Linked DNA regions of Homo sapiens. The protein of the gene in region 2 interacts with the protein of the main gene of each other region in a biochemical or structural test. Each region holds a gene or a part of one and is shown on either strand. Other genes may lie near its edges.

Region 1 (8,434 bases), on a different chromosome or scaffold from region 2:
GTAAATGGGCAGAAGAGAATGTTGTTGGGTCTAGAAATTATACTCTATGATCATCAGTGGAATTGGAGAGAAGACATAGGAAGAGACAGGCTATCAGTCTTCAAATATCTGGCAATCATAGACAGGAAGGACTGAATCAGCCTGGTTCTAGAGGGTGGAAGTGGGGCTAGAAGGCAAACGTTACAGAGAGGTGGTCTTCAGTGCAAGCCTAGACTACAACTGGACTGTTCTGTGACATAACAGAGATGCTATTAGTAGAAGTACAGGATTTCAGCTTGGGCTGGCTGACTGACAGTGTTCCTATTGAGAAAATTACTGAATAGTCCTGGACACTTGACTGCCTGATTTTCAAGGACTCTTCCAACTCTAAGAAGATAGTAGGAGACAATTAATTATCTACTGCTTGATTCAACATACAGAATTTGCATATAGTGGGGCATCTTTCTAATATTTGCCTATTTGTTAAATATTGGTTTCCTGGATTCTTATATTTAATGCTATAGAGAACAGTTTTTAAGAAGAAAACCCCACACTAACTAAAGCAGTTTGTAGACACTTTTTTACTATGGTGGTAACCACAGATTCAGAATAAACAATTTGTTATAGTGAGTAGCATATAATCTGTTTTTATGAAAAAAGAGAAACAAAAGTTTTTAAAAGTTAAAATAAAGGTTCCTAAAAAGTTATAAACTTTAACAAAGACAAGTGTTAAGGATTCTTTAGAATAACAGTTTTCTTTTTAATATGGAGAAAACAAAAAGGAGCTGAAAGTCCTTTGTCTTGCTATCTAAGAATAGCACACTAGATGGTGCTATAAGGCTGTCAGAAAGAGAGTTTTACCAGGCTAGTGTGGCATTCTGATGGTAAAGTGTTCTGGAAACTTTCCACTTACTTTCAGCTCCTGAGAGCCGTTCCAGGTTTATATAAAATTAATGGGAATCTCAATTGGACAAACTTTAGCCCTGAGATGACATTAACTTAAAACTAAACCACAGGCTTAACACATTAAAAATAGTTTCACTATTTGACATTTCAATCTGATTCCACTGAAATAGAAATGTTAAAGTCATTAAAATGTCAATGTATTAATTTAAATGTATTGCTATTAATTTCACTTAGCTAGTCTTCCCATGAGCCTAGTTATAACCACCACTTAATGAATCTTTAAGTCAGTTTAAAGTGGCTTCCTGAAATTTTGAATTATCATTAAGCTGAACATACAAATCACTCTTACATTTAGTATTGCAAATATATTAACACAAATACATGAAACATTGTATTTGGAAATCACTCTATCAGTATATTATTTCTTATAAAAATAACATTTCATGATTTTTCCACATTACAATAAAACCAGAAAAATTTTACTAAAGTGCAAAACAAAAATAAAGCTTTACTTTTATAATAGTTCCATTTCATTTTCTTTTAAAAAGGTGAACAACAAAATGAACGAATAAAGATATCGCTTTTGCAACCTAAGAGTCATTTAAGTTTTAAACTTTCAAAGACCTGAGATTTGTGATTTTTTTTCCCCTTATCTTTCCAGTTCTGCTTCTAGAATTTCCCCCCATGTATCTGCATCCATTGGGTACATGATTTTTTCTGGTAGGCTAATGGGAGAACAAATGTTGCTGTATCTGCCACTTAGCCATTCGTGTTTCACTTTACTCTTCTGGTAATTCCTCAGCAGTATCACCTGAAAGAGGTAAATCACCGTTAAAAAAGACTGTAGTAGGTGGTTGGTTAGTGAATGTGTTTAAAGCAAGAGAAGCAGATTGACAGGGCTGAAAAAAAGAGTATTTACATTTATATATACGTACATTAATAAATGTATGTGTCTGTGTACGTGTGTGTATGTATATGTGTATTTATACTGAGTGGCATAAGGTGAAGTGGAAAGAAGGAGCTAATTCCCTTCTGGTTAACGCAGGAAAATTCCCGAATTTAGAATTTTAAAAATGCAAAAGGATAAATGAAAGATAGTGTGGAAACAGTGTGGTTAGCAGGAAAAGACTAATAACTTTAACTCATTTCCAAGAGTCAACACACTGTCTGTGTTATTCTGCATATGTAATTCTGACTCCTCCAAGCAGAAGTTAGAATTGGCGCAAACCTGCTATCATAACGCTGTCAACAACACTGCAGATCGCAAAGATTAAACTTACCCTCCAGGAATAACCACTTTCTAGATCATCATCTATTTCTCTTCGGCACACAGCTCTTACAGTCATGCAGTGAGGTTTCCATAAAGAGTCACTGTTTCTTATTGTGTCATTCCAGCTCCTGCATGTCAATGAAGCCCTGCACAGACTCCGAATGTCCAGCTGACTGAAAATTTTAAAAGTGATTTCTGCAGGCAGCAGTTCAAAAAAGTTGTTTTGACTCTCATTTTTTTCCTTCTCAGCATCCACAGAGTTCGCTTCTGTGTGAGAAACTCTTAAATTATTGTTTCTCTTGGAGTTTTTATGCATAGCTTAATGTTTTAAGTTATCCTCATATGTAACCTAAAAGGCAAAATTTAAACATGCTCAGTCTCCAAATAGGAGTATAAATCCTACTTTAAGTCAGATGCTTTTTGGGTATAATTTAAGAACTCTTTCTTGACTTTAGCTTCTCAATCTGTAAAATGGGCCAATGCTGCCGCTCTCCTGAAAGTTCTTGCAAGGATTAACAGTGATAGTGGGTAAAATATCTAGTCTTGCTACATCTGAATTGCACATGGGAGGCACCCAACATGTTAGTTTCACTCTCACCCAGGCTGGAGTGCAGATGTGTCATAATAGCTCACTGCAGCCTCAAACTCCAGCCTCAAGCGATTCTCTTGACTCAGCGTACCCCGCCCCTCTTTAAAAAAAAAAAAAAGAAAAAAAAAAAAACAGAAAACCAAAAACTGTTTTACGGAGAAATGGTTCTTGCTATGTTGTCCAGGCTGGTCTTGAACTCTTGTCCTCAAGCAATCCTTCTGCCTCAGCCTCCCAGAGTGCTGGGATGACAGGTATGAGCCACCATACCCGGTACTTTTGTACCTTTGAAAATGTATATGAGTCAATCCTATTAAACTCCTGAATACTTGTTGTACATGGGAACTGATGCCTCATCATTAATTTGCAATTTGTGACTTAATCATAAACTTGCTGGACTTCTAGTTGTTTATATAAGAATTTTATCTACTTGTATCTTATAGGTAGGTAGGTGCTTACATTTGACACAACTACTATCTGAAATGGACAAGAAGATGAGATCTGGATTATGAAACAAAGTCTCAAATATTCAACTCAGTCATAAGAGTAGTGTTTTAGAAATGGCCCCTTGAAGCTATCCTACATGCATAATTACAAGCTAAGGATAATAGTCACTGAAGACATCAAGCAACAGTGAGTGACAACTGTAAACAATGTTTAGAACTCAGCTAGGTACAGTATGTGACTCTTTGAAGCCCAGATTTAAAGCTCAGTTTCAGCTAATTTACCTAAGGTGAATGGTGTAGGCTTCCCAAATCAGTTGAAAGCATGACTGGGTACATCACCATCCTTGAGTTACTTTTGTATATAAAGACAGCTTGTATTCACTTAAAATCAGTTTATTCCATTTTGCACTTCCTTTTATAACGGGGGTTGGTTGTGCAAGAGGAGAGGTTTGAGGTAAATACTTCTTTTAACTCAGCTGAACACAAATCTCTTTTCTAGACGAGCTACTCAGCTATGTTTTCGGACTTGCCAAGACCACGGTGGCTCCCATTCATGATCCAGATTAGCTGTGGTGGCTGGAACTGCAGTCTGTGTTCAACAGAGGTCTTCTTCTTGAGGGTTAGGAGAAGTAAGAAAGCAAACGTAAAAACGGGTGAGTCAAGAGCAAGTTTTTGCCATGCACCTTGGCCCCTCCCACCACCAATACAAACCAAAGCCAAACCACAACGTTCTTGAAAAGAATCTCACATTAGGAAAACGTTACAGTGCATTTAAACGTTACAGTGTGTTTATCCACTTCTCCCAGGATCTTACTGGGAGAATAAAATGCGTCCCCTTGTGGAATTCCTGTAACGGGAATGAAGGCTTTTGAATTTCACAGCAGGGGATACCTTTGCGAGTTTCTAAAATCCCACTAGGAATCTTTCTTCTACGTCCAGGTTCGCCTGGATGCCTGGAAACGACCCCTCTTCTGCCCTTTCTCCTTTATGAACTGAGCTTTCCTGAATTCTCTCTCAAGTGAAGTAAAAGCTCGTCCCCCTTTCAACTATCATTCGGAGGGATAGATCGGCGGCAGCGCAGTCGGAGGGGCGGGGAGCCCCACTCCGTCCAAATCCCGCGGGTCAGGGCTAATCACCCCACGTCCCGTCTGAGCCACCCTCCTTGTGTCCCGCGCGGGTTGCAGCTGCTGGAACCCAAGAACACAGGGCACTGACAAGTGACAACAACCGTCAGCGTTGACTGTCACTGCGGCTCCAGGCCGCGGAGGGAAGGCTGAGCTTGCGTCCAGGCCGCGTCCCCGGGAGCGTAGACACCTAAGCCAACGGGAACGGAAGACCCTTCTACCTACTAGGCCGCGGTAGCTTCTCCTCCCGCGATTTAAATCCACCGGAATTCGAATCCTTCCCCATAGCTCTTCGCATCCCGCCCACCTGAGTCCCGCCCTGCTCAGAACTCGCGCAGGCGCCGAGAGGGGCGCGCAGTGCCTTTGGGGATTGGTAGTTTTTTCCAGGGCGTCTCCGCTCGGGAAAGGAAGTGAAGAAAGCCACCAGGACTACAAGGCCCGGCGTCCTCCAAGATGGGAGGGAGGTGAAAAGGGTGTTGGGGAATAAGCCGGGGTTTTTAAACAGTAGTTTTGAGGCGGCGAGACTGGGGAATCCCCGGTTGCGTCATTAGTAGGCGTGGAGGGGCGGGACTCGTGAAGCTGCGCTGGGGCCGGGCTCTGAGAGGACCGGCGCAGCCGCGGGGAGCCTTTGAGGCCCTCCCTCGGTGTTTTTTCCCAGGGCGTGGGCTTGCCCCGCGCGTGTCTGTGGAGGGCGGAAACAGCGGAGGGGCCAGTCTCCTGGCGAAGGGGCCTAATCCTTGCCCGCCATGTCCGGGGGCTTCGAGCTGCAGCCGCGGGACGGCGGTCCCCGGGTGGCCCTGGCGCCCGGGGAGACGGTGATCGGCCGCGGGCCGCTGCTGGGAGTAAGTGTGGGCGGGGGCTTAGCGGACCCCGAGAGCCGTGGAGTTCCGCGCCGGCTCCTGAAGACCGGCCCTAGTCCTGGCCGGTTTCCCCACCGCACTGGTCCGCCGGTCCGGATTTTAGAAGTTTGGGGCCGCACGTTTTTCAGTTACCTTTAAGCCAATTCACAAACATTTCTTTATGTTGCTTTTAAAACACTGACTGTATTACCATTATTATCTTATCCAGGGATTGGCAAACTAGTGCCTGGGGGCCAAATCCAGCCTATGTTTGTATGGCCCCATGAACTAAGAATGATTCTTAAATTCTGAAATGTAAAATGTAAACAAAAAATCTACTAATTTTTCAGGGGGAATAGTTGCTCCAAGGGTTGAGGGTATTGCGGCTTGTCTTGTAAAGCCTAAAATATTTACAGTAGTGTCTGGTCCTTTACAGAAAAGTTTGCCAAACTGTGATATTACGTCTTCTAGGCTAATTTCTTTTAACCTTTGGTCTCCTTTGCAGAGCTGTGTGGACCTTATTTATTTATATTATTTATTATTTCCAGTAAAATGAGTAGCTAACCCTTCATAAGTAATGTGTATAGCGTTCGTGTCATTGGTCTAAGGAGACATTACCTATACCAACATCTTTAACTGTCTCAAGACCGTATCAGTTAGCTATTTTTATTATCCTCATTGTTCAGATGAGAAAATTGAGCCATACATACATTATTTAAAGTCCATACATAAGCTTTTGGACACATAATGCCACAAAGCTAAATATTCTCTACCTTCTTTGGGAGAGGTTTAGGAATAAGAACATTTGCATATTGCATTCTGGAATTCTATAGATCTCTTAAGTACATCTAGTTTTCTATTTTGTTCTTTAACATTCAACATTTCTTGTTTGGTGCTCACTGTGTAGAACATTTTGCAGATTCTAGCACTGTGGGGCATACAAAGATGAATGGAACATGGGTCCCTACCCTTTAGGAGTTTTCTCTTGGGACCGGGGAGACACCTGTGTCAGTGAGCTAACACCAAGGAGTAAGGAGTGTGTACTGTTGTCCTGGTTAACTTCCAGAGTCTAAATGGAACCATTGGTACTTGCCTTAGGTCCCTTCTGGGAGCAGGGAAAGGAGTGGTAGTTTAAGATTGTATTATGGAAGCTGGTCCTAAAGGGGTGTGTGTGTGTGTGTGTGTGTGTGTGTGTGTTGTGTGTTGTGTGTTGTGTACATGCACATGTGCATGTGGTAAGGTTATTGAGGAAGTAGATATTCAATTGCTGTTCATTTTTTTACTGGACAAGTGATTATTTAAATATTTAACATCATTTCTATTTTTTTCATCGTTTGTTGGCCTATACAAACACTGGAAGGAACTGTCTGGAGGCTTTATTTTTCTTTTAAATTCGTAGGTTTGAAACTTAAGAGTATGTGCTTAATCTAGTAATCATATGTCTGGTGACTAACGAGTTTTGACTTGCTTAAGAAATTGTCACCAGTAGAGTACTGTGGGTCTGGTTAAAAGGTGGATGAATTTTAGGGCCGTGGTTTAGAAACATGGCAACAGATTGCAGACCGTTTCATTATTTGTAGCTTGTTCTTTGTGTTGTCGACTTGCTAATGTGAGATGAGCCTATTTGGTATCTGTTTTTAAAAATGGTAAGGAGTGAAAGCTGGGCAATTACCTGGTCAAGATTTTGCTTTTCCTTTTGAAATAACATTCAGGGATGAGATTCTTTTGCCAAGGTTGGCGTGTATCAGAAGTGGTTATGAATGACATCCTAAGTGTGTTAAAGGAAAAATTTGGAGAACAAACAAATCGCCTTGTAGTTTTTTCGATTTTGGAGCTGACAGATGCACTCGATTCTTCTCTGCACTGGTTAAAACACAACATAAGGGCTCCTGTTTCCAACAACAGCAATTCCAGTGAGATTTATTTTTGTATTGTGAGAGAGCGAAGACTGAGTTCTAAGTGGAAAACTCAGTAAGTTCATTGTAAATTGGAATCGGAAACGATTAATATAAATAAGGATGATTTTGAACTTTCTTAATTGGGCATGTTTTTCTGAGACAAGCTTCACAAACCTTGATGGCCACACAAACATAAAAGTTTATAATCTGACTGTGTAAAATAGTCTTGGTAGTAAAACAGTTTGACAATGAGAATGGTTTTGTATTTTTATGGTGGTAGGAAAACACAACAGAGAAACCTGTCACAGAGAACAAAGGACAATGAAATTTAATCTTTCTTGTTCCCTTTGCTTTCATGTGAGTCATCAGAGAACCCCAGGTCTTTGTTTACTAGATTTTGATTCTGCTCCATGATTGGCATCAGTTAGAAGGTTTTACAGCAGGATTAATCTTCAGAGAACTTGAGTTAAAACAGCCAATCCAAAAGATTACATATTGTGTGATTCCATTTATATAACATCATTGAAATTGCGAAATTGCAAAATTTCAAAAATGGAGAACAGATTAGTGGTTGCCAAAGGTTAAAAAATTAGGCAGCAGGGCAGAAGGGAATGGATATGGCTATAAAATAGCAACATGAGGGATATTTGTGGTGATAGAAATGTGCTTTGTCTGGACTGTGTCAGTATCAATATCTTAGGTTGATATATTGTACTATAGTTTTGTAAGACGTTACCATTAGGGGAAACTGGATAAATGGTACAAGAGATATTTCTATATTATATCTTTCAACTACATGTGAATCTACCATTATCTTAAGAAATTTAATTTAAAAGGGTTTTACAGTACGACATGTCAAGCACTGTTAGGCCAAAGTATTTGCTTTATGGGTTTTAATTAAAGCTGTTACACTCTTAAATGAAATCTACTATTTCTGATTTCAGATTTTTCTTATTTTGTTTTGACAGCAGGGATTATATGACACATTTCTTTATGATCTATTTTCCTCCTAGGAAACAAGATAGCAAAAGATATCTAGTGATACTTTCTCAATGTAGATGTAATTAAATTGACTGCTTTGATTAAAAGGAGAAGAGTCCTCAGTTGGGGGAACAGGGAAGGTCATAGGCTTCAGTATAGACTCTTCAGGTGGCATCAGTTCACCACTTCTAAGAATGTTGTAAATGTTCTACAAAGTTTACACAAAGTAACCATCCCCTGACCTGGCAGCTCTATACTTTTAACTGCTTGTTGCAGAATCCTGGCTGTCCTGGAATGCTGTTCCTACCTGCTCCAACATAGGTTTCTTCCCTTACGTTTCTTTTATTTCTAGATTTGCCCTTCCCTCATTTTATTATTTAGCCTACAACCAGTGCCTAGCACACA
Region 2 (8,048 bases):
CGATTTTTCTGGGTATGCAAATCTTACAGACCCTTACGTGGTATTTGTATTTCTTTTACTATCTTTGATGGGGAAATAGTAAGATGGCAATAAGCAATGTGCCATTCCTTGTATTTTATATATCAATTGTAGAGCATCTATATACATTTTTAAAGGTTATGTGCATGTGCGAGACAAGTTTTTGGTCTGGCAGTGCTTGCTGCCCAGGCAGTGACACTGTTGCCCCCAGGCACTTGTCCCACAGAATCAAGGCCAGCTCTGTAGCTTGTCCTCAGAGCCCTCTGTGATGCGGCTTTGCTGGCCTTCTGCAGCCTTTTTCTGCCACCCTTTTCTTCCTTCTCACATACCCCTCTCCCCACCCCACCGCCAGTCTTGCTCATTCTTTTTAGGAGTACCTAGCAATAGGGCGCCTAGCCAGGGCACCCCACATGCCACCGTGTGCTACTCAGATGGCTGTGCTTAGGCAGTCCCCTGTGTTTTCAGCTCCCAGTGGGCTTAGCAGATCACTGCCTCCAAGTGCATGCTAGCATTCCCTGTCTCACATCACCTTGGCACACCTCTGGCATAGCTTAGCTCCTTTGTTAAAGTTCACCTTCCTATAGCTGATGCTCAGTCACGAATGAGATACTTTCTGAAGAGCAGAAACTGTCTTTTTAACCAGACTATGGTTGGTAGCACATATTAGGTGGTCTGTGTGTGTCGGAAGCAATCTGTGACCTCTTGTATCTAACTGACATCCTGAACACAGGCATAGCTGGAAAGGGCAGTTTCTTGATTGGATGAAGACCTGGGAGCACAGTATCTTTCCCTGAGCTTCATGTATTTGATACTTATTGAGTGACCATTTAGAGCAAGGCCCCTTGTAAATCAGTCAGAGTGAAGAGTGAATTGTGCTGATGGAAGAATTTATAGTGAATACCATAGGGCTCCCTGCATTCATTTTTCCTTCTTCTAAAAAGGAAAGCAAATACTGTGATTTCCTTTTGGGTAATAATCTCCCAGTGTGTATATAGTATTCGGGGTCTTGGAGTTCTGGAGTAGGCATGTGATCCCACAGAGGCCTATTAACTCTCGAAGGGAGCAACTCAGGAATGAGGCCAGGGAGGTTGTAGTCATACAGCAGTTCCAGTGGTGGTTCCCTGACCGAATTGGCCACTGGTTTCTGTTTTTGTTTTTTTTAGGGAAAGATTTTTCTCTTAAAGCAGCCACAATATTAGCCCTATTATAAATGTAAAAGTACCGGAAATAAGTACTGTAGCAGCAATAATACTGTCTTTCATCCTTAAAGCCTCACATTTTTCTATTTTTTGTTACTCTTTATTGTAAGAAGAAAAAAAGAGATTATTTGATTTGGACAAGCCAAATCCTCTTTGGTCTATGGGGTGGTTACCTCAAGGGAGAGCTGGCTTCTTAACTAAAACTTAATATTTTTTAGGAATTCCGAGAAATCTCTTACCTCAAGAAATTGAAGGTTAAAAAACAGGACCGTATATTCCCCCCAGAAACCAGCGCCTCCGTGGCGGCCACGCCTCCGCCCTCCACAGCCTCGGCTCCTGCTGCTGTGAACTCCTCTGCTTCAGCAGGTACAGCATTTGGGACCCCGGTCTTAGAGCTGCTTTGCAGGAATTGTTTGCCCACTACTTGCTGGTGGTGTGGAGCTGGTGAAGAAAGTATCCGTCAAGGGTCTCTCTTTGCTGACCCCACCATGGGGAAGCCTTGCCCTGCAGGGGATAGGCCTCTTCTCTTGGCTTGTTACACCCCTGACCACAGCAAGGTGGGAGAGTGTTAAGAACATAGCATCGGCTGGGAGCAGTGACTCACACCTGTAATCCCAGCACTTTAGGAAGCTGAGGCAAAAGAATTGCTGAGGCCAGGAGTTTGAGACCAACCTGGGCAATGTAGTGAGACCCCATCTCTACAAAAATGTTTAAAATTAATCCGAGTATGTGCCTTTAGCCCTAGATACTCAGGAGGCTGAGGCGGAGGATCCCTTGAGCCTGGGAGGTCAAGGCTGCACTGAGCTATGATCACGCTAATGCACACCAGCTTGGGCGATGGAGTGATACCCTATCTCTAAAAATAAAATAAACATTGTAGAAGAACAAGCAGCTCTTACTCTGGGAGGCTAGGAGAGGGGCTCCTAAGAAAGGCTAGGTCGACAGCCTTACCTGGAGTTGGGCGCAGGGTCTCCTGCCTGACTGCACTGCAGAGGAGCATCCCAGGCCTCACTCTCCAGGCTGCCCTGCGCCCACCAGTCATCCGGGCCCTGGTGTGATGCTCAAGTCTCTGTTGTATGCAGAGGGAGTTACTAATCAGCACTAGTGAGAAATGCCCCAAGCCAACCAAGACAGTGAGAGCAACGTATTTTTTTGGCAGGAGAAGTGACCCGCTGCTTGTTTACTCAGAGACATGTGGCATAGTCTATTGGTGAAGGTCACAGTTTGGTGGGTGGAGGATGAGGGTTCCTTCCTTGAACATAAACCTGTTATTGACTTCCTTTTCATATCCTGAGAGGGGACCAGTGGTCACTGCAGTGTGTGCTGGTGGTCATCCCGAGTCCACTGTGCTGCTGGCAGCCTGGGTCCAGGTGCCCACATGAAGGGCCAGTTGGGGGCTGGCATTCTGACCCCTCCATGGAGGGTTCCCTCCTCTGCTTTCCCCTGACTTGCAGTTCAGCATGAGTCAATAATTTTGTTCTCTGGAGACCTCAGCAGTTTCAGTTAAACTGTCAGTGTTTCCTAGTTGTTTGCCCTCACAGGGAAGGCAGGAAGGACTTTTCCTTGCAGCTACTCCAGTTCTGGACGGGTGTCACCTGCACTGTGTTGTTTGCTGTGAACAGAAGGCACACCCCTGTCCAGGCCTTTCTGGCCTGGGTCAGTGCACACCAGGCTGCTGCTTTTCTCCTAGAATCAGTTAGCTCAGCTCCGTGTGATTGTGCTGGCCACTGCTTTGAGGGACTATCATGGACATGTCTCATTTTAAAATGGGGTTAATTCATAAGAATTGCAGTTTGTTTGGGAGAATAACAGAAGGAATTGGGGGTTCATGTGACCTTACCCCTCTTCCCATCCGACTCCAGCCTCCTGGTCCCTCGTCCGCAGATGCAGCCTTCCTAGCCTGACCTTGGCGCGGACCTGGGGTAACCCGCAGCTGCCTGGCTCACGCCGCGAGGCTGGCCTGGCCATGGAGTGGCATTTTGTGGCTTGCTCCCTGCCCAGTCCTTTCTGTGCTGAGGGACATCTGTAGGTACTCAGGTGGCAGCTTGCTGTCCCGTCCTGTTTTCTCGCGAGTGTATTTTCATAGGCTTTTCCCAGGAGCTCGCTGCTTGGCTCACCTGCTCCTCCACCTCCCCTTACTGGGGAGCAGCACCAGAGCTGGCCTTGCTGAATGATTCTCTCCTTTCATCCCAGATAAGCCATTATCCAACATGAAGATCCTGACTCTCGGGAAGCTGTCCCGGAACAAGGATGAAGTGAAGGCCATGATTGAGAAACTCGGGGGGAAGTTGACGGGGACGGCCAACAAGGCTTCCCTGTGCATCAGCACCAAAAGTGAGTTGAATCTGAATTTGTGCAACAGGGACAATGCTTCTGTATCTTATGATTGTGATGACGAGTAAGTGAGGAAGAGTCGAACACAGCGCTGAAAAACTGGATCTTAACATCATCATCGCTGTGGTTCTTTATGAAGGGAAACCAGTATTTGCTCTCAGTGTTGCTGCTTTGTACTGTAGATTCACATGCATTGCGTGTTCTCAACTAAAGACGGTAAGCTACTATAGGTTGAGTCTCCCTAGTCCCGAAGCCCAAACAAATTGCCTCAAAATTCAACACTTTTTGAGTGACAACATGATGCTCAAAGGAAATGTTCATTGGAGCATTTCAGATTTCAGAGTTTTGGATTAGATGCTCAGTCAGTAAATATGAAGCAAGTATTTTAAGGTCTGAAAGGTTTCTGGTCTCAAGCATCTCGGATAAGGGAAGCTGCTCAACCTGTATTCTCATCACTTCGCACTGCTCTGTAAGATGTGCATAGATATCTGCCAAAACAGAAGTTCAAGGTTCAAGTATGTTTGGAAAAGGTAGGGTAAAACAAAGCTAAACAGGTTTCTGTGTGGGTTTATTATGCTGATTACCACTGTAGGTCTTCAGGAACCAGAGAAATAGAATACAGGATTTCCCATACATATTTGACATCAGGGTGTTTTTTCTTTGGAGTGTTTGTTAACATCGTGCTGTAGAATGGTTTGGAGAAGGCTGCCCTGGCTCATCATACCTTAGAAAAGGGGGAATGTTGCTGATAAAAACACTCTTGGGAGCATTAGACTTGGAAGCAAAGGAGAGCTGTGAATGCTGAGGGTTTGGAAGTACACACTAAATATAACTGTAGTAATTTGAAGTTTCAGTTTTGTTTTAAACTTGTATTTTGGTTTTTTTTCCTTTCAATTTGAACAGAGGAGGTGGAAAAGATGAATAAGAAGATGGAGGAAGTAAAGGAAGCCAACATCCGAGTTGTGTCTGAGGACTTCCTCCAGGACGTCTCCGCCTCCACCAAGAGCCTTCAGGAGTTGTTCTTAGCGCACATCTTGTCCCCTTGGGGGGCAGAGGTGAAGGCAGAGCCTGTTGAAGTTGTGGCCCCAAGAGGGAAGTCAGGGGCTGCGCTCTCCAAAAAAAGCAAGGGCCAGGTCAAGGAGGAAGGTGAGGGCCCCAAGCTGCCCCCTCCAGGGCCAAAAGCCAGGGACATTGGTGGCCAGGTTGTTGTCCACGGAACCTCTCCCTTTGTGTCCCTGACATGGCCTGTTGAGTGCTGCAGAGCAGGACACAGAATGGCAGGCGCTTTGGGGTGGCGGGAGTAGTGTGTATATAGATGCCGAGTTGACAGATGATGGGAATGAGAACAACTCATTTGCCTTCTACCTTCCCCTTACTTTTTAGTTACATTTAACTTCATGTTTACATTTTTCTGTTCTCCTCCAAGGTATCAACAAATCTGAAAAGAGAATGAAATTAACTCTTAAAGGAGGAGCAGCTGTGGATCCTGATTCTGGTAAGCAAACAGGACTGCCAGCAAAGTGGGCTGTGCCGCCCCCCAACCCCCAGCTGACTAGGAGCACACATCCAAATGCCCGCAGCATACCTGGGGCAGTGTGGTCGTGCCTTTGTCCTCACTCAGGCCTCCTTCACCAGCTCCCCCAGTCCTGAGAACACACATTTGTGGGGAGCCTCCCGAGGGTGGTGGTAGTGTATCCAAGAGGCGTGAACCTCAGGCCTGCAGATCCCTTCTCCGTGAGAGTGCTAGCACCTCAAGGGGAGAGAAAACTGTAGGTGCTTTTCCTCTGGGACAGGACTGGAACACTCTGCGCATGTCCTGGAGAAAGGTGGGAAGGTCTTCAGTGCCACCCTTGGCCTGGTGGACATCGTTAAAGGAACCAACTCCTACTACAAGCTGCAGCTTCTGGAGGACGACAAGGAAAACAGGTGAGTTCTGCAGGTGTAGCCTGGTTGTGCAGAGACATGGGCCCGTCCTGCATTGGTTAGTGCTGTGCCATCAGCCTTGTGAAACCCGTTAGGCCCAGTGCCTGGGGAATGAAATCTAATCACAGAGATCAAAAACAAATTATAAGGCCTTTGCTTAAAGGGGAGAAAGAAGCCACTTACTAACCAGTAGCGTTGCTGTCCTTGTACAGTTGTCCCAAGGTATGGTTTCACATATTCTTCTGCTGGCTTTTCTTTTTGTTTGGTGTTTTGTTTTTTGTTGTTGTTTTGCAACTATTTGTTTTGTTTTTTGAAATAGTCTCGCTCTGTTACCCAGGCTGGAGTGCAGTGGCGTAATCACAGCTCAGCGGAGCCTTGACCTCCCAGGCTCAAGCAATCCTCCCACCTCAGCCTCCTGAGTAACTGGGACTATAGGTGCGCACCACCATGCCTTATTTTTTATGGAGACGGGCCTCGCTGTGTTGCCCAGACTGGTCTCAAACTCCTGGACTCAAGTGATCCTCCCGCCTCAGCCTCTCAAAGTGCTGGGATTACAGGCATGAGCCTCTGCACCCAGCCCCAGCTGGCTTTTCTTTCAGCTACTTGAATCAAGATTTTCTGATTTTACATATGTTTTAAAACTTTGAAGCAAATAAAGGTTGGCAAGCGTTGAACTTACTCTTTAATGTTCAAACTCCCTAGTAACTAAAGAGGTTGGATTTGCCTTTTTTTTTTTTTAACATGGTGAGACAGGCAAGGTTGGAGTGTGGATGGTGGGGTACAGCAGCTGGGAGGTGGTGAGAGGTTGGGCTGGCTTTTGTCCTTATGTTTCTAGGCAGAGTGGTCCTTATCTAGTGAGTTCATTGCCCCTCAGTACAGCCACCACAAAATAGCATTTATGTGTCAGTGTAAAGGCATGTGGAAGGAACTCTTACTAAATTCTAACGTTGATTGTGGATGTGGACATTTTTCTGGTGGCTTAGATTTCCTGGTGTTAAGTGAAAGGGTGGTGTAGGCTGTTAGGGTCAGAAAAAATTTTCAACGTAGATCAAGGTAGTGCTTCTCAAAAATTTTCACAGGAAAAACCAAGCAGAGAATGAATTTTTATACCCCTGTTCAGTAGCCCAGAGAATGGCCAGGGAGTCCCAAATTTTCTTTGAAATCTGTAGTTCTATCTTTAAAATGTACACAAATCTTGTATGTGGGTTTATGATATATATATATTTATTATGAAATGACAATTAAGTGTTGCATTACCTCTGCTTTGAGTTAATCAAAAATTAGCTCATCCAAAGCTGAGCAGCACAGCAGCTGGGTGTGTGTGATGTGTACCCTCAATTGAGATGGAATTTGAACATGACAGCCTGCATCTCTAGGTCACCGGACCTGAGGAGCCATTGCCACTGCCCCCCTCATTTCATCATGTCTTGGCCTTGGATCTGAGTTGAAAGTTTCATTATTTTTAGGGTACAGCTGTAAGGGTTGACTCCTTGAACACATGACTTCCAGATAGTACTTTGTATTTCTTTGGGGAGAGGACTAGAATCATTTTTATGCAAAGGTCTCCAGACTCCAGGATTCAGTCCTCAGGCTTGGCTGCCAGAACCAAGTTTAAACTATTCTTTGGCATTTTTTGTAGTCAATATGATTTGAAAGTTTAATGAAAAGTAAAATAAAGACCCTTTATTGTTATAGCAGTTGTGTTTGTTCTGTGTTAATCACCATCCTTTTGGGGTGTGTAAAATTCTTCCCCACGTGAATGTAATGGCAGGAAAGGGGAGCTCCTGAAATGGGACAGCTGACCCACACATGTGTATCTGACACCCTCCTTCCCACTGCAGGTATTGGATATTCAGGTCCTGGGGCCGTGTGGGTACGGTGATCGGTAGCAACAAACTGGAACAGATGCCGTCCAAGGAGGATGCCATTGAGCACTTCATGAAATTATATGAAGAAAAAACCGGGAACGCTTGGCACTCCAAAAATTTCACGAAGTATCCCAAAAAGTTCTACCCCCTGGAGATTGACTATGGCCAGGTAACCACATAATGCCCTTACACTGTCTGCTTCTAGGAAAAGGAAGGGACACCTTATTCTAGAAAATCCACATCGTGGATCAGGTGGCATCATAGTAAACATACTACCAAATGTTGAAAGGAGAATAATAGTCCTTCACAAATTCTCCCCCAAAAATAGAAGAAAATACTTCCCAGCTCATTGCATGAAGGCCAGTACCACCCTGATACCAGAGCCAAAGCAGCACAGGAGAACTACAGAGCAGTTTCCTGTGAATAGACATGCAGAAACCCTATGAATAGAGATACAAAATCCTAACAAACCGAATCCAGCAGCATAGACGGATCTATACACCACTCCCAAGTGGGATTTATCCCAGGAATGTAAGGTTGGTTCGACATTTAAAAATCAATGTAATATATGAATAGAATGGAGGACAAAAACCACATGATCATCTCAGTAGATGGCAGAAAAAGCATTTAATACAGTCAACACCTTGAAGTATGAGATAGAGCTTAAATGAGAATTGTGGTAGCATCTTTGAGATATCGAGGAGGA
Region 3 (7,524 bases), on a different chromosome or scaffold from region 2:
GTGATCTTCTTTAGAAACTGTAAAGACATTTGCAAATAAAAGGAAAAAAAATCCATGACTTTATTCAACAACTTCAGATATACTGTATGGGAACATGATGAAGAAACTGAGACTAAAACTAAGAGGTCATCTTAACCTAACCTGGGGCACGGCAACACATCTCAAACCATTTTAGGAAGTTGGCATAAATAACTTTTTTTAAACTTCTTACTAAAGTATGTAAGATTAGGGTTATGTACAGTATAATTCCACAATTCTCATATTTTATTATACATATAATTATTGCTAGACCATAGTATAAAATTAATTGTACAATGAAGTTCATTCTAATTGTTTCTTCTTACCATCACGCATCAATTCCACAATTTCTTCACGTGTAAGATCATTTTTATTCCTGACTTCATATTTCAAGTTTCTGAATGTTTCCCTGAGGTTTGCTGCATCGACATCTGTACCAGACCGAGATGTCATTCCTTGGAACAGAAAGAATTACTTTTAATTGTATGGAAAACAAAGAATAACTACTTTGAAATGAAATTAACTACTCAGCAATTCAGAAGTCCACAATAAATTCTTCCTTTTAAATGGTAAGAGAATTCTAACTATTTTGAACATGGTGAACAAAATTTCTTCAATTTTGTAGCTTATAAGATACTTCATAATATAAGCTCATCAGTGTTATAGCCAAAATGATGTCTTTCACAGCGGTTTAGGTAGTGAAAAACACAAATGTCTAACAATAAGGGTTTGGTTAGACAAGCTATACTAACTTATATAATGGGATATACTATGTTGTCATTTTCACAGATAAAATGTTGCCATGGGAAAATCATCAGTTTAAAAAAATAAGACTAGAAAACAATACGATCCTATAATACATACACACATCTGTCACACTCAGAGGAAATGCGTTTCTCTGACTCTAACTTCCCAACAATTTTAAGATAGCATTACAACATTTATAGTGCCTTCAAGGAAAACCCCCAAACATTATTACTGTTCATCAGGTATTCTGCTATGGCTAATCTCTAATCCTTCCAATCACCATGAGAGTCATATTATTACTAGTTTCACTTGTGCAGATGTGGGACATGTAGCAGAGTTAACAAACCAGTCCAAAGTGACAAAGCTATGCTGGGCCTGTATCCAGGGCTCCTGGGCTTTCTACCACTCCTTTAGAGAACCTTCCACATTAACGTACAGATTGACTGCATGATGCACTCAGATTTCAAAATGCTAAATCTTGGTGGGAAACATCCCTCAGAATTGAGTAAATTTGATGGGTATGAAGATTAAATACAGAAAGTCTACATGTATCTCCAAAATGTTGTTGATTATCTCAGCTGTGTGACAAGGTCACTGGCTTCTGGTGCTGATGTGTTGGCTGCCTTTTAATTTTTATTTATTTTTATTTTTTAGACAGGATCTTGCTCTGTGGCCCAGGCTAGAGTACAGCAACCACAGCTCACTGCAGCCTCAACCTCCCAGATTCAAGCTATCTTCCCACCTCAGCCTCCCGAGTAGCTGGGACTACAGGTGCGCACCACCACACCCTGCTACCTTTTTTCTGTTTTGTAGAGATGGGATTTCCCTGTGTTGCCCAGACTGATCTTGAACTTTGGTGCTCAAGGATCCTCCTGCCTTGGCCTCCCAAAGTGTTGGGATTACATGTGTGAGCCATGGCGCCTGGCCCAACACCAGCCTGCCAGAGATCTCATGAGAACCTGACCTTTACATTGCAAAGTAGGAAAGGAGCTCACTGGGCAAAACCCAGACTGCTGGTCTAAATATGTGGGGGGAGGTGCTGGTGGTAGTGGAATAATATGCTTGTTTTTGGTTTTTGAAACAATAGAGCCAACAGTGCAAAATTCTATAGGAAGGAGGTATCCTAACTAGAAATGTGAGGCAGAATATCTAGAAGTAAATTTTCAAATATGCGTAAAGCAAAAGTAAACAAGGTGTTGTGTTTTTAAGTTAATGGTTGAAGGTGGCATCTCAACTTATAGCCAAAAGCAATAAAACTGATGCCATTTAGAGCTCCATTTTCAACTATTCTCTTCTCACTCCTTATAATTAATCTGACACAAACCCTGCTATCTTCCCAGTGTAATCTGGCTTCCTTCCATTTCCACCACCACTCTGATAGGTACTGGCCCACCTTAGATCTACTACAGCTTCTCTAATTAAAAATTAACTCTAATATGATTAATAGGCCAATTCAAAGAATTATCATAGCATCAATTTAAAAGGGAAACAGCCATAATGTTCATTCATACAGTAAATTATTCAAATTAAGTGAATGGTAGTTTTGGGGATGCAGTATTATATAATCATTATAACAGATATGAAAATTATGCAGCAATATGAAAAATGCTATTCCTTTAAGTGAAACAAGCAGAAGACAACATTGCTTATACGTTATGAATAAAATCAAGCTTTAAAAAGAACTGCCAAGAAAAAATAACAATACACCAAATATTAATTAGCTTTTTTGGCACTGTGAAGGATTTTATTATCTATATTTCTAAAAAAACATTCTCAAATGTAGTACTACATTCAAGTTGTACATAGTACAGAAATCGAGAGGGGGATCTGGTGGCAAGGCCATGGTAAATTTAAAGCAAGCAGTTTTAGTAGTAGAGACAGAAAATGGAAAAAGACTCAAGAAGGAATGGAAACAAATGAAGAGTACAAGCTTAAACTACATGTATTCAAAATTTAAGGAAGAAGGGAAGGAGACAAAATATCAAAGGAATCAAAAGGAACAGAGTAAAAGAAAGGTCTCTCTAAGATGGGGAGCTTCGTAGGGTAAGGGAAGACAGGCAACAGAGCACATGAGGATACAAGGAAGTGAAGCAGAACAGAAGATGGATTCAGAGCTTGGGCTTTGGAGCCACACAGACCTAGCTCTGCCGCCATACTGTGTGACTGCGCGAGGTCTTTAACCTTTCAGAATCTCATCGTTACTTTCCAGGTTGTCATAAATTAAATAAGGCAATGCTTGTGATATCTCTTGCAGTTTCTGGGGAAAAAATAAATACTACCACTTAACTGTTTTTTTGAGAACCTTCCATTGGGATCAAAGAGGAAGCAGAAAGAAGAAAAAGAAGCAAGGGCTACAGAGAAGTCAGGGCAGAGGCAACCAAGCATACAGATAGGAGGCCAGCAAGAGGAGGCTATGAAGTTGGGCAGAAGAGTGACGCGTTCACAGTGTATCAGAGGACCTGTAGGTCCTGCCCAATCTCTACTTCACAGCTAGTCTGTGTCACGGTTTACTGTCTAATACCTCAATAATACTGCTTTTAATATTATATCAAATGTAAATGGCACAAACATTTGAAAAGGATTAAAAATTATGTAAGACACATACCAGTGCTTTTATGAAAATTCTTATTATTAATTATTATACATAAACCCATCTCAGGATAATCCATTTTATAACTGTTGTCCAGGGATATTCCAGAGTCCATTGATTCGCTTCCATGTATGATCTTTCTGTTTAGAAATCAAATAATAGCTTTACAAAGGTAGAAATGACCACGCCTTCTGTTTATATTAGTGCAATTTTTATAACTCACAGTAACAGTTAACACTTGTTGAATGTTATAAACCAGGCTGTCTTCATTTCAATTTCACATCAACAGTTATACAGATGAGAAAATGACCTGACGTGAGGCTAAGTAATGTGCTAAAGGTTATGCAAATATTGTGTCACAGCCAAGAAGGAAGGAAAGCATCTGTTGGACTTCAGAGTTCAGGCTTTTAACTTCCATGTTTTACATTTTCCTCTAAATTCTTCAAAATTTCATCAAATACCTTTATAATTTAAAAATTACTTATTAACTTTGTGAAATATTTTATCCTTTGAGGTAAGAGTAAAAATCTTAAAAATTACCCTGAAATGATGGGAAATCAACAAAATGCAAATATAACTCAAAGCACAATATTTATCACAATTCATAAATTATTCCTTAAACCCCATGAGCTAAACAAATTAGTAATTTATTAATATATAAAAGCATTATTGTAAATAATTGAAAATATCTGTCTGGAAGTCACTTATCTAAAAAAACCTCTGCTATCTAGATTGGGGTCAGTAAACTTTTTTTTTAATGGGCTAAATATTAAGTGTTTTAGGCTTGTGGGCCATCTGGTTTCTGTTACAGCTACTCAATTCTATTCTTTTTTTTTTTTTTTTGAGACATGGTCTGGCTCTGTCACCCAAGCTGGAGTGCAGTGGTGCCATCATAGCTCACTGCAACTTTGAACTCTTGGGCTCCAGTGATACTCCTTCCTCAGCCTTCTGAGTAGCTAGGACTACAGACAGGCATGCCCCACCATGCCCAGCTAATTTCTGTATTTTCTTTTTTAGAGACAGGATCTCGCTATGTTGCCCAGGCTAGTCTTGAACTCCTGGCCTCAAGTGATCCTCCTGCCTTGGCCTCCAAAAGTGCTGGGATTACAGTTGTGAGCCACTGTGCCCAGCCATAGCTGCTCAATTATACTGGTGAAACGGGCTTAGGACAATATGTAAGCGAATGGATGTGCCTATATTCCAACGAAAGTTGATAAAAACAGGCCTTAAGCTTGATCCCTGATCTAGACCAAGAGTCAGGCAAAAACAGGTCTAGGAACTACCAAACACTAACACCTACAGTCCATATACTCATGCACTTAACCTTAAGAGCATCTCACATTATACACAATTCCAAAAATACTGTTGGAAAAAGATTAAATGTAGTAAATTAAAGGAGTCAACGTGAGAAAACAGTTATGATTTTTAACCAGAGGTGAACAGCCTCACATTTACAGACTGAAGTTAAATCCTGAAAGCGTGACTTGACCTTTGAGTCCTACAGATGATGGATCATGGGACTTATGACTCCCAGCTCCCGACACCCCTTCCCCACGTGCTCTGGGTGCCTCCTAAGGAGGTAGGTACTTTACAAGCATATGATAGCTAGTCCACGAGGGGATACTCCTAATAAAAGGCAGAGGCTGTGAAAGCCGGGACTGTGAGGGCAACTTACCAAAGGATCGAAACAACCCTAAACCTGTCTGGGGCTTCCGTGCAACTTGTTATTGAAGTGGTGTTCTGCATGACATGAAAAGGTAGGGCCAGGCAGGGTGGTTCACACCTGTACTCCCAGCACTTTGGGAGGCCGAGGCAGGAGGATCCCTTGAGGCCAGGCATTGGAGACCAGCCTGGGCAACACAGCAAGACCCCCATCTCTACAAAAATAAAAAACAAAAATAACCAGGCATGGTGGCACATGTCTGTAGTCCTAGCTACTCAGGAGGATTACTGGAGCCCAGGAGTGCAGTGAGCCATAATCAGATCACTGCACTCCAGCCTGTCTCAAAAAAGAAAGAAAAAAAAAATAGTAGGAAAATGTGTAAATCACTTTCAAAGGATTTTTTTGAAGAGATGGGGTCTTACTTCACTGTAACCTCTGGCGTGTAGCTAGGACTGACTACAAGCACACACACTATGGTGGACTAATTGTTTTTTGTTTTTTTGTAGAGACAGGGTCTCGTTATGTTGCCCAGGCTGGTTTCAAACTCTCCACCTCAAGTGATCCTCCTGCCACAGCTCCCACGTAGCTGGGATTACAGGAGCAAGCCACTGCACTGGCTAAAATGATTTAAATGACAGCAACAACTCTCTAAAATGGGACTGCATTTTAAAAGTTTACTTTCTAGAAAAATCCCTTTGCTAAACAAAATTGTGAAATCTTTAGTGGTAACTTGTTAATAGTATTTCTGTAATCATATTGTTTAGTAATAAAATTAGTTTGTAATATTCAGGGCAGCCGAGAATAACAATACTGGGTTTCAGAAATAAACTTTCAGAATTTAAAGTATTACGAGAGATCCCAAATAAATAATAACAGACAAGAATTAAAAAGTGAATTTGAGTTTTATCTTTTTCCTTTTTCCATCTGCTAGTTATTGGAAGCATTAATAAGCAGAATATTCCAAAAAGACACGGGGAAAAAAAGGGTAAAATTCATCCATAACTAGGCAGTTTGTCCCCGGACTGAAAACTGGCATTGCATTTTAGTCGTAAAAACTCATAAACAAGAGGTCAAGAAACTCCTCCCAAACCTAAACCCTCTAATCCTATAGAGCGATTCGGGAGGGTAGAAAGCACCGGCGCTTGGGAGTCCTGCCTCTCCTGTGGTGTCCTTTTGGTTCCAGGACTAGGTTTCCAACTATGGGTCACACACCCTACTAGGCCTTTCCTTTCATCTTCCCTTCAGTTCTGTGAAAGTTTTAGCCCCATGTTAAAGACGAGGTTCAGAGAAGAAAAGTCAGTTTATGCAAAGCCACACAGCTGTCTGAGGTAGGAAGTCACTTGGTCTCTCTGGCCTGAGAGAGAGACCACTCTCTTTCCTCTTGCCCCACTGCTCGAGGTTTGCTTATTACACATCCCCATCTTTCTCTGATTATAAAGAATTCAATTTAAATACTCACGGTTCCAAATTTTTAATGGATTTTGAATCCACTGAGTTTTCAGTGTTCTCCATGGATACCTTTATTAACTAGAATACAAAGAAAATAGAAGTTAATAAAAAATCAGTCATAAAACCACTGCATTATATTAATTATCCCAGTGATTATTTTTCCAAATTAATACCTCAGTTCTCCCTCTACTGTTAAAGGTGTATGTGAGTCAGTTCTGGGGATAATGATTTCTTTGCAATGGTACATACAATTTAGCCTCTCTCTCTCTTTTTAATTGAGCTATGAATTATATATAGTGAACTACATAAAGCATATAGAAAGTATACAGCTCGATTTTTTATATTTACATACCCTCATCAGATCAAGATACAGATTACAGTTTATTTCTTTTGTAAGACAACACCTCGGGTCATTTCTAAGAACTGCAACTCAACACAGTTAAAACAAAAATCAAAAACTTCCCACCACAATGGTATAACTCACATAACACAATTCTACAATGCTTAGATTCCCAAGATACAGTATCAAGATGTTCCAAATCTCCATTAATCTTTATTCTTTTTTTTTTTTTCTTTTGAGGCAGGGTCTCACTCTGTCACCCAGGCTGGAGGGCAGCGGCGCAATCACGGCTCACTGCAGCTTCGATCTCCTGGACTCAAATTCTCCCGCCTCAGCCTCCCGAGTAGCTGGGATTACAGGCATGCACCACCATGTCTGGCTAATTTTTGTATTTTTTGTAGACATACGGTCTCGCTGTATTGCCCAGGCTGGTCTCAAACTCCTGAGTTCAAGTGATCTGCCCACCTAGGCCTCCTAAAGTGCTGGGATTACAGGCAAGAGCCACCGCACCCGGCCTAGTCTTTACTTTTAAAGTGGGTTTTGGAAGCCCAGCTTCTCATTTAGGGTAGTAAAATGGCCCAGGAAATGTAAAAGTAGAAACTAAAGTTTCTGCTTTCATTCTTCCATTACACAATTATATCTCACAAGGTGAACCAGTTCTTAGAATCAAAGCAACTATCACTTATTGAGCACTTAATATATACCAGGTACTTTGCA

Evidence for each region. Proteins that work in one complex are often made in the same cells at the same time.
Region 1: the proteins of PARP1 (region 2) and APLF form a complex in vitro, tested with the Homo sapiens proteins (3 studies listed by BioGRID and IntAct, with this or other methods).
Region 3: of the proteins of PARP1 (region 2) and CASP3, one has a biochemical effect on the other in vitro, tested with the Homo sapiens proteins (9 studies listed by BioGRID and IntAct).

Annotation. Positions count from the first base shown.
Region 1 is NC_000002.12:68,462,675-68,471,108, forward strand, and holds the start of APLF (aprataxin and PNK-like factor), read left to right. Parts: upstream 1-4,910; 5' UTR 4,911-5,057; coding exon 5,058-5,153; intron 5,154-8,434. Other genes in the region: FBXO48 (F-box only protein 48), read right to left, coding at 1,535-1,696, 2,166-2,471. UniProt on the Homo sapiens protein: Histone chaperone involved in single-strand and double-strand DNA break repair.
Region 2 is NC_000001.11:226,376,571-226,384,618, reverse strand, and holds part of PARP1 (poly [ADP-ribose] polymerase 1), read left to right. Parts: intron 1-1,435; coding exon 1,436-1,583; intron 1,584-3,410; coding exon 3,411-3,551; intron 3,552-4,454; coding exon 4,455-4,697; intron 4,698-4,977; coding exon 4,978-5,046; intron 5,047-5,344; coding exon 5,345-5,477; intron 5,478-7,315; coding exon 7,316-7,511; intron 7,512-8,048. UniProt on the Homo sapiens protein: Poly-ADP-ribosyltransferase that mediates poly-ADP-ribosylation of proteins and plays a key role in DNA repair.
Region 3 is NC_000004.12:184,631,924-184,639,447, forward strand, and holds part of CASP3 (caspase-3 isoform a preproprotein), read right to left. Parts: intron 6,546-7,524; coding exon of another isoform or gene 6,531-6,545; coding exon 6,478-6,530; intron 3,496-6,477; coding exon 3,371-3,495; intron 474-3,370; coding exon 345-473; intron 18-344; coding exon 1-17. UniProt on the Homo sapiens protein: Thiol protease that acts as a major effector caspase involved in the execution phase of apoptosis. Following cleavage and activation by initiator caspases (CASP8, CASP9 and/or CASP10), mediates execution of apoptosis by catalyzing cleavage of many proteins.